2 linked regions of the Homo sapiens genome follow. The protein of the gene in region 1 purifies or fractionates together with the protein of each later gene. This does not show direct contact. Each region holds a gene or a part of one and is shown in the gene's direction. Other genes may lie near its edges.

Region 1 (3,500 bases):
GAGAATCCAAACTGTAACCTAAAACACCTACGGTAGGCGATTTTCTTTTTCTTCTTTCTTTCTTTTTTTGAGACAGGGTCTTGCTCTGTCCCCCAGCCTGGAGTGCAGTGGGGTGATTACGGCTCACTGCGGCTTCGGTCTTCCAGGCTTGATCGGTTCTCCCACCTCAGCCTCCTGAGTAGCTGGCTCTACAGGCATGTATTACCATGGCCAGGTAACTGTTTTCTGTAGAGATGAGGTCTTGTCATCTTTCCCGGGCTGGTTTTGAATTCTGGTGCTCAAGGAATCCTCCCACCTCGGCCTCCCAATGTGCTAGGATTACAGGCATGAGCCATCATGCCTGGCCTCATTTTTAAAGTGTTTGGAAATCTGGAAATCCTTAATTTCTATGTTTTCTTTTTTTTTTTTTTTTTTTGAGACGGAGCCTCGTTCTAGTTGCCCAGGCTGGAGTGCAGTGGCGCGATCTCGGCTTACTGCAACCTCTTCCTCCCGGGTTCTCGCTATTCTCCTGCCTCAGCCTCCTGAGTAGCTGGGACTACAGATGCCCGCCACCGTGCCTGGCTAATTTTTTTTGTATTTTTAGTAGAGATGGGTTTCACAGTGTTAGCCAGGATGGTCTCGATCTCCTGACCTCATGATCTGCCCGCCTTGGCCTTCCAAAGTGCTGGGATTACAGGCGTGAGCCACCACGCCCGGCCAATTTCTATGTTTTCAATATCTCAGACTGTATCACTTCGGATCCAGTTTTAAGATCAAACCCCTCCAGAAACTGAATATATGTGGGTGGGCACTTCTAAAGTCAGGTAGAGGGCCTGGAGAAGTGAAATATATATAACAATGGCCCCCAGTGACCTGGACTTCAGCAGCATGCTGCTTCTGCTGGGATCCAGTAATCAGGAAGCAGTGAGCCTGCCCCACCTCATAAACCCAGGGAACCATAGGTGGGATACCACCCCCAGAAAATGCAAAGTCTCCACAAATGGAATGGCGAGCTCTTCATCACTTCTCTCCCCAAAGTTTGTCAGTTGCATCTCTTGGATGCAACCTATTTTCCAACTAGAATCTGCAATCCTAATGCAAAGAGAATCTGCACGTCATTACTACTTAGCTTTGCTGTAGAGTAAAGAAAAAAAACACTAGAACACAGGGTACTTTTTTTCTTTTTTCAGACAGAGTCTCGCTTTGTCACCCAGGCTGGAGTGCAGTGGTGCGATCTTGGCTCACTGCAACCTCAGCCTCCAAGGTTCAAGCGATTCTCCTGATTGAGCTGAGTAGTTGGGATTACAGGCGTGCACCACCATACCCAGCTAATTTTTGTATTTTTAGTAGAGACCAGGTTTCACCATGTTAGCCAGACTGGTCTCAAACTCCTGACCTCAAGTGATCCACCTGCCTCAACCTCCCAAAGTGCTGGGATTACAGGCATGAGCCACCATTCCTGGCCTCCTGAAGTTTCTTAACCCATCCCCCTGAGGAATATTTCAAGCCTCAAGCCAGACCGTGATACCTTTATTTCCAAAGACTCAAAAGCTCAATGCAAACGGGTGGATTACCTGGTGTCTTGTTCCTGTAATCTCAGCTATGACTGTAATCCTAGATTCTCGGGAGGCTGGGGCAGGAGAATCGCTTGAACCCAGGAGGCGGAGGTTGCAGTGAGCCGAGATCACGCCATTGCACTCCAGCCTTGGCAACAAGAGTGAAACTCTGCCTTAAAAAAAACAAAACCAAAGGCTTCTACAGTGGCCTACAGGGCCTTATGGGGGATCCTCGTGTAAGTTATGAGCCATAAATCATTCTACTTTCTCACTAGCTCAGTATTTTATTTACAAGATTCCCTCCCCCAGTTAGCATGCTGGTTCATGATCTACCATCCTTCAGTTTCTTTCCTCATATCACTTTCCAAAAGAGGACTTAAATGACCAGCATAAGTCTAGCCAATCAATGCCTCTCTGTTTGACTTACCTCTACCCTGTTTATTTTAATACCATCATCCATTGTCTTCAATAGAACATATCGAGATGTCTGCTGTCACTAAAAACTCTGAGGACAAGGATTTCTTCTGCTCACTCCCCTCTGCCTTTCCTCACTACTGGAGCCCCAGCAAATATGCTGCTTGTTTTTTTGTTTTGTTTTGTTTGAGACCAAGTCTCACTCTTTCACCCAAGCTGGAATGCAGTGGTGATATGTTGGCTAACTACAACCTCTGCCTCCTGGTTCAGGCGATTCTCCTGCCTCTCGAGTAGCTGGAATTATAGGTGGTTCCACCATACCTGGCTAATTTTTGTATTTTCATTTTATGTTATATATTTGTGAGATGGAGTCTCATTCTATTGCCCAGGCTGGAGTGCAGTGGCGCAATCTGGGCTCACTGTAACCTCCGCCTCCCAGGCTGAAGCGATTCTTGTGCCTCAGCCTCCCAAGTAGCTAGCATTAAAGGCACACACCACCATGCATGGCTAATTTTTTGTAGAGATGGGGTTTTGCCATGTTGGCCTGGCTGGTCTCGAACTCCTGACCTCAGGTGATCTACCCTCCTCGGCCTCCCAAGGTGCTGGGGCTACAGGTGTCTGTCCCCACGCCCTGCCTAATCTTTGTATTTTTAGTAGAGATGGGGTTTGACCGTGTTGGCAAGGCTGGTCTCGAACACCTGGCCTCAAGTGATCCACCCGCCTTGGCCTCCCGAAGTGTTGGGATTACACGCTTGAGCCACTACCTGCTCAGTGAATGCGTGGATTTCCATGTTCTTCCTCAACAGCCTCTGGAGCTGCTCCCTCATGCCTTTCTATTGTCAGCATCTTGGATCTGCTCTCCTCAGCAATCAGAAGCTTGAAACTCTGGACCTGGGCCAGAATCATTTGTGGAAGAGTGGCATAATTAAGCTCTTTGGGGTTCTAAGACAAAGAACTGGATCCTTGAAGATACTCAGGTATGGGTTTTTTGTTTTGTTTTGTTTTGTTTTTTGTTTTTGTTTTTTTGAGATGGAGTCGTGCTCTGTCATTCAGGCTGGAGTGCAGTGGCGCAATCTTGGCTCACCGCAACCTCTGCCTCTCAGGTTCAAGCAATTCTCCTGCCTCAGCCTCATGAGTAGCTGGGCCTAGAGGCATGCCAACATGTCCAGCTAATTTTTTTCTTTTTCTTTTTTTTTTTTTGAGACGGAGTTTTGTTCTTGTAGCCCAGGCTGGAGTGCAGTGGTGCGATCTTGGCTCACTGCAACCCCCACCTCCTGGGTTCAAGCGATTCTCCCACCTTGGCCTCCCAAGTAGCTGGAATTACAGATGCCTGCCACCATGCCTGGCTAATTTTTTAGTAGAGAGGGGTTTCACCATGTTGGCCAGGCTAGTCTTGAACTCCTGACCTCAGGTGAGCCACCTGCCTCGGCCTCCCAAAGTGGTGGGATTACAGAGGTGAGCCATTGCACCCGGCCTTTTTGGTTTTTGCTTTTTGGGATGGAGTCTCACTGTTGCCCAGGCTGGAGTGCAGTGGCGCGATCTTGACTCACT
Region 2 (3,936 bases), on another chromosome or scaffold:
CTTTCTTTTCCAATGAACTGCTAAAGTTCCACTTTTATGCCCAAGATTCTTATCATACTTTTGTAAGATCAAGAACAACATGTGAAGTTTCCACTATTATATATCCACCCATTATATGTAGTTGTACTGGAAAAAATTAAAAGCTGATAACTTTTAATTTGAAGATGATGGTATATACTATGTATATATATTAAGGTGCTTAAAGATAAATCCTAGCACCTGAGGAGGTGTAGAAATCATTCAAACTCTTTGATTACAATGACAAACTAGTCAGTAACTTACTAAATATTGTACTATATATTACTAAGTATTTTACTCTTCAACATAGCTTTTTAAAGACACAAAGCTTTTCAAAATTCCTGCTTACCTGGGGGTAAAATTTGGGGAAGCAGATTTCTCCAGTGTTTAAAGAAGCCAATTTGGCAGTGTACCAGAGTTGAATACATTTTTCCCATCACAAGGGAATACATTTTTCCCATCTAAGTTAAGTTGTTTTTCTCTGGTAAAGGAGGAAATCAACACCCATCTGTACGGAGATAAACGTTTCAGAGTGTTTTTATATTAAATAATTAGTATACTAGTCTAGTAAGTGATAATCCACGAATAAGTTAAGAAGAGCTAAGAAAGAAAAAGAAAAGCATCCATCCATCCTTTGGTTGCAAATAATACTTACATTAGCGTATGGCAAAATTTAATTTTGTACAGAGTAATTTAACCCAGGATTGCTGACTTTTTAAGAGCTGAGAAAGCATAGCTATGGAGCGCAAGGCCCCACCCAGCAGGGTCTAAGTATTCCGTCTGCAAAACTGGCAGGCCACCAACGGCCGCGTCCCAGGGCGGCCTGAAGGATGCTGATAACCGGGAGCCCCGCCCTGGGTTCGGCTATCCCGGGCACCCCGGGCCGGCGGGGCGAGGCTCTCCAATTGCTGGGCCAGAGCGGGACCCTTCCTTTCCGCACCCTCCTGGGTATCTCCGGTCTTCAGGCCTCCTTCGGAGAGCCCTGCTCCGAGCCCATTGGGCTTCCAATCTTGGCCTGCCTAGCGCCGAGCAGCCAATCAGAAGGCAGTCCTCCCGAGGGGGCGGGACGAGGGGGTGGTGCTGATTGGCTGAGCCTGAAGTCGCCACGGACTCGGGGCAACAGGCAGATTTGCCTGCTGAGGGTGGAGACCCACGAGCCGAGGCCTCCTGCAGTGTTCTGCACAGCAAACCGCACGCTATGGCTGACAGCCGGGATCCCGCCAGCGACCAGATGCAGCACTGGAAGGAGCAGCGGGCCGCGCAGGTACACTCTGTGCTCCCCGAGCGGGCCCGAAGGTCCGTTTAGAAAGCGGGGGCGTCGGCAAGTAAAGGCCCGGCTTCCCCCGGGGCGGCGCTTGGAGGGACTGTACCGCGGCTCACTGGGCAGGGGGGATCCCCTTCGGTGCAGACGGACTTTTACATTCGCCGAAGCAGGGGAGGGGGGTCCGGGTAGTGGGGCGCGGGACTGCAGGCTTTGTTGTCCGCGACAGGCTCGGGTGGTTGCTTCAGAATTTTGCACTTTTGCCAACTGGGACAGAGGTCGCAGCTTGAGGACAGATTGAGGGCTCATGGGGAAAGAGGCAGAGAGCTGCAGCTGCAAGGAAGTCAGTGAGGGGAGAAGTGGAACCAGGCTCTAATGGTGCCCTTCTTGAAATACTGTTTACACGCTTTCATAGTTGTGGGGTCCCAGCAGGGCAGGGATTGTGTTTTACAATCTTGAGGTCTCCAGCACCAGTCACAGTGACTGGTACGTACTATGCACATTATTAAACGACTAAATAAAAGAACTTTTACATTCATTGTCTCATTTGCACTTCAAAATGTCAAGCCTAGCATTTTAGAGCTGGGGGGTGACATTAGGGATTGATTAATGCGTTTATTCTATTCTTTGAGCACCTGTAGGTGCTAGGCACTGTTCGGGGCAAGGTGTACAAATTCCAGTGCGGCAAGAACAACACCCTTGAGAAGCTGAGAGTCTAGTCTGGGAGACGAGACACATAAACAGATGATTACACTCCAGCGTGGTGAGGGCTCTAATAGAGGTTATCTGTAGAATGTAGAGGGAGTGACCAGGTGGGCCGGACAAAGCAGGTGACATTTGAACAGGAATTTTTTTAAATGAGTAGGATTTTAACTTGGTGGTGGGGGAGGCATTCCTGGCCTGTGCCCACGGCTGCAGAGTCTCAGAGGGCATCTATGAGGAGGTTGGATTAGATGAGACCACATCTGGTCTGAGTCTACTGTTGGCAGATTGGCCCAGGGAGTCTAAAGGTCTTGCCCTGTTCCCTGGCTGCTGGTTAATGGTAGACAGAGGACTGCAGCCCTGTTTTCCCTATTCTGCCTAGTGCTCTTGCTCAAAACTCAGGTTCGTGAACTGGGGTATTAATGCTAAGTGCTCATGGATTGCTTTAATGGTTCCCTGTTTGGGAAAAGGCTGCCATTCTCCTCCAAGGGCCTGGAAAATCTCCCCTCTTGGCCCTGTTCTTTGTTATATACCATTAGGTTGGTTCATGAGCTCTTAAAGTAAACCAGAGAGAGGTAGAGTCTTAGTAAAGGATGTGCCACTACTTAGTGGCAGAGACAAGGTTAGAATTCAGCTTCTTGGACCCAAGACTCTTTCCTTACCCAGTGGGTGCAAATCCTGGTTCACACTGAAGTTTTCATGAATACTCGGTGAATTGAGAAAAGTGTGGACAAAGTAGTGAGATTTTTACAAAACAAAATATTTTCTTTTTCTTTTTCTTTTCTTTTCTTTTTTTTTTTTTGAGACGGAGTCTTGCTCTGTTGCCCAGGCTGGAGTGCAGTGGTATGATCTCCACTCACTGCAAACTCCGCCTCCCGGATTCAAGCAATTCTCCTGCCTCAGCCTCCCGAGTAGCTGGGATTACAGGTGTCCACCACCACACCCAGCTAATTTTTGTATTTTTAGTAGAGATGGGGTTTCACCATGTTGGCCAGGCTGGACTGGAACTCCTGACCTCAGGAGATCTGCCCGCCTTGGCCTCCCAAAGTACCGAGATTACAGGTGTAATATTTTCATTTTTAAAGGACTCCCCTTTATTCTGAGACTAGCTGCCTTCTTCCTTGTTTGGGAGAATCATGAACTGTTGAAGTCCCTGCTGTTGATTTACCTTACATAGTTGCCCATGTGAGAAATGGCTGACTCCAAAACACATCTATAGTTGGGAGGCTCTTAATTGAAATACAGCCATCCCCTTTGTCCATGACATCTCAGGGCACTGTGTACATCGTCCTGATTGGCAGTCACATTGATGTCTTACTGTTCCTCAGTTTTAGCTGCTCTTAGTAAAAACCGCTTACTTCTTTTAGGCACTTCTCCCTCCACCCAGGGCCCTCCAAAAGGAATTATGCATATGCCTTATAGCCTATATAATTTTCAAACACTTTTTTTAAATGAAAAATTTCAAATATTCAGAAAAGTTGAAAAAATTTTGCAGTGTATATCTATATATCTGCCATCTAGATTCTACAAGGAACATTTTGCCCTGTGTCTTTTATTACGTTACTCCATCTGTCTGTCCATCCTTTAATTCATTCAAGTTGTTTCATGTATTAGCAGTTTGTTCTTTTCATTGCTGAGTAAGATTCCATTATTTGAATATACCACCATTTGGATATCCTGTTGCTGGACACCTGGGCTATTTAATTTTTTTTCTATTGTAAGTAAAGCTGCTGTGGCTGGGCATGAAGGCTTATGCCTATAACCCTACCACTTTTGGAGGCTGAGGTGGGAGGATAGTTTGAGCTCAGGAGTTGAGACCAGCCTAAGCAACATGGTGAAAACCCATCTCTACAACAAATAAAAGAAGTAGCCAGACATGGTGACACATGCCTGTAGTCCCAGCTACTCGGGAAGTTGAGTTGGGAGGATTGCTTGAGCTTGGGGTGTGGAGGCTG

What was found. Proteins that work in one complex are often made in the same cells at the same time.
Region 2: the proteins of NLRP7 (region 1) and CAT purify together in Homo sapiens (affinity purification with mass spectrometry, with the first as the bait; one study listed by BioGRID). This does not show direct contact.

What each region holds. Positions count from the first base shown.
Region 1 is NC_000019.10:54,927,031-54,930,530, reverse strand, and holds part of NLRP7 (NACHT, LRR and PYD domains-containing protein 7), read left to right. Parts: coding exon 1-32; intron 33-2,755; coding exon 2,756-2,926; intron 2,927-3,500. UniProt on the Homo sapiens protein: Inhibits CASP1/caspase-1-dependent IL1B secretion.
Region 2 is NC_000011.10:34,437,798-34,441,733, forward strand, and holds the start of CAT (catalase), read left to right. Parts: upstream 1-1,136; 5' UTR 1,137-1,216; coding exon 1,217-1,282; intron 1,283-3,936. UniProt on the Homo sapiens protein: Catalyzes the degradation of hydrogen peroxide (H(2)O(2)) generated by peroxisomal oxidases to water and oxygen, thereby protecting cells from the toxic effects of hydrogen peroxide.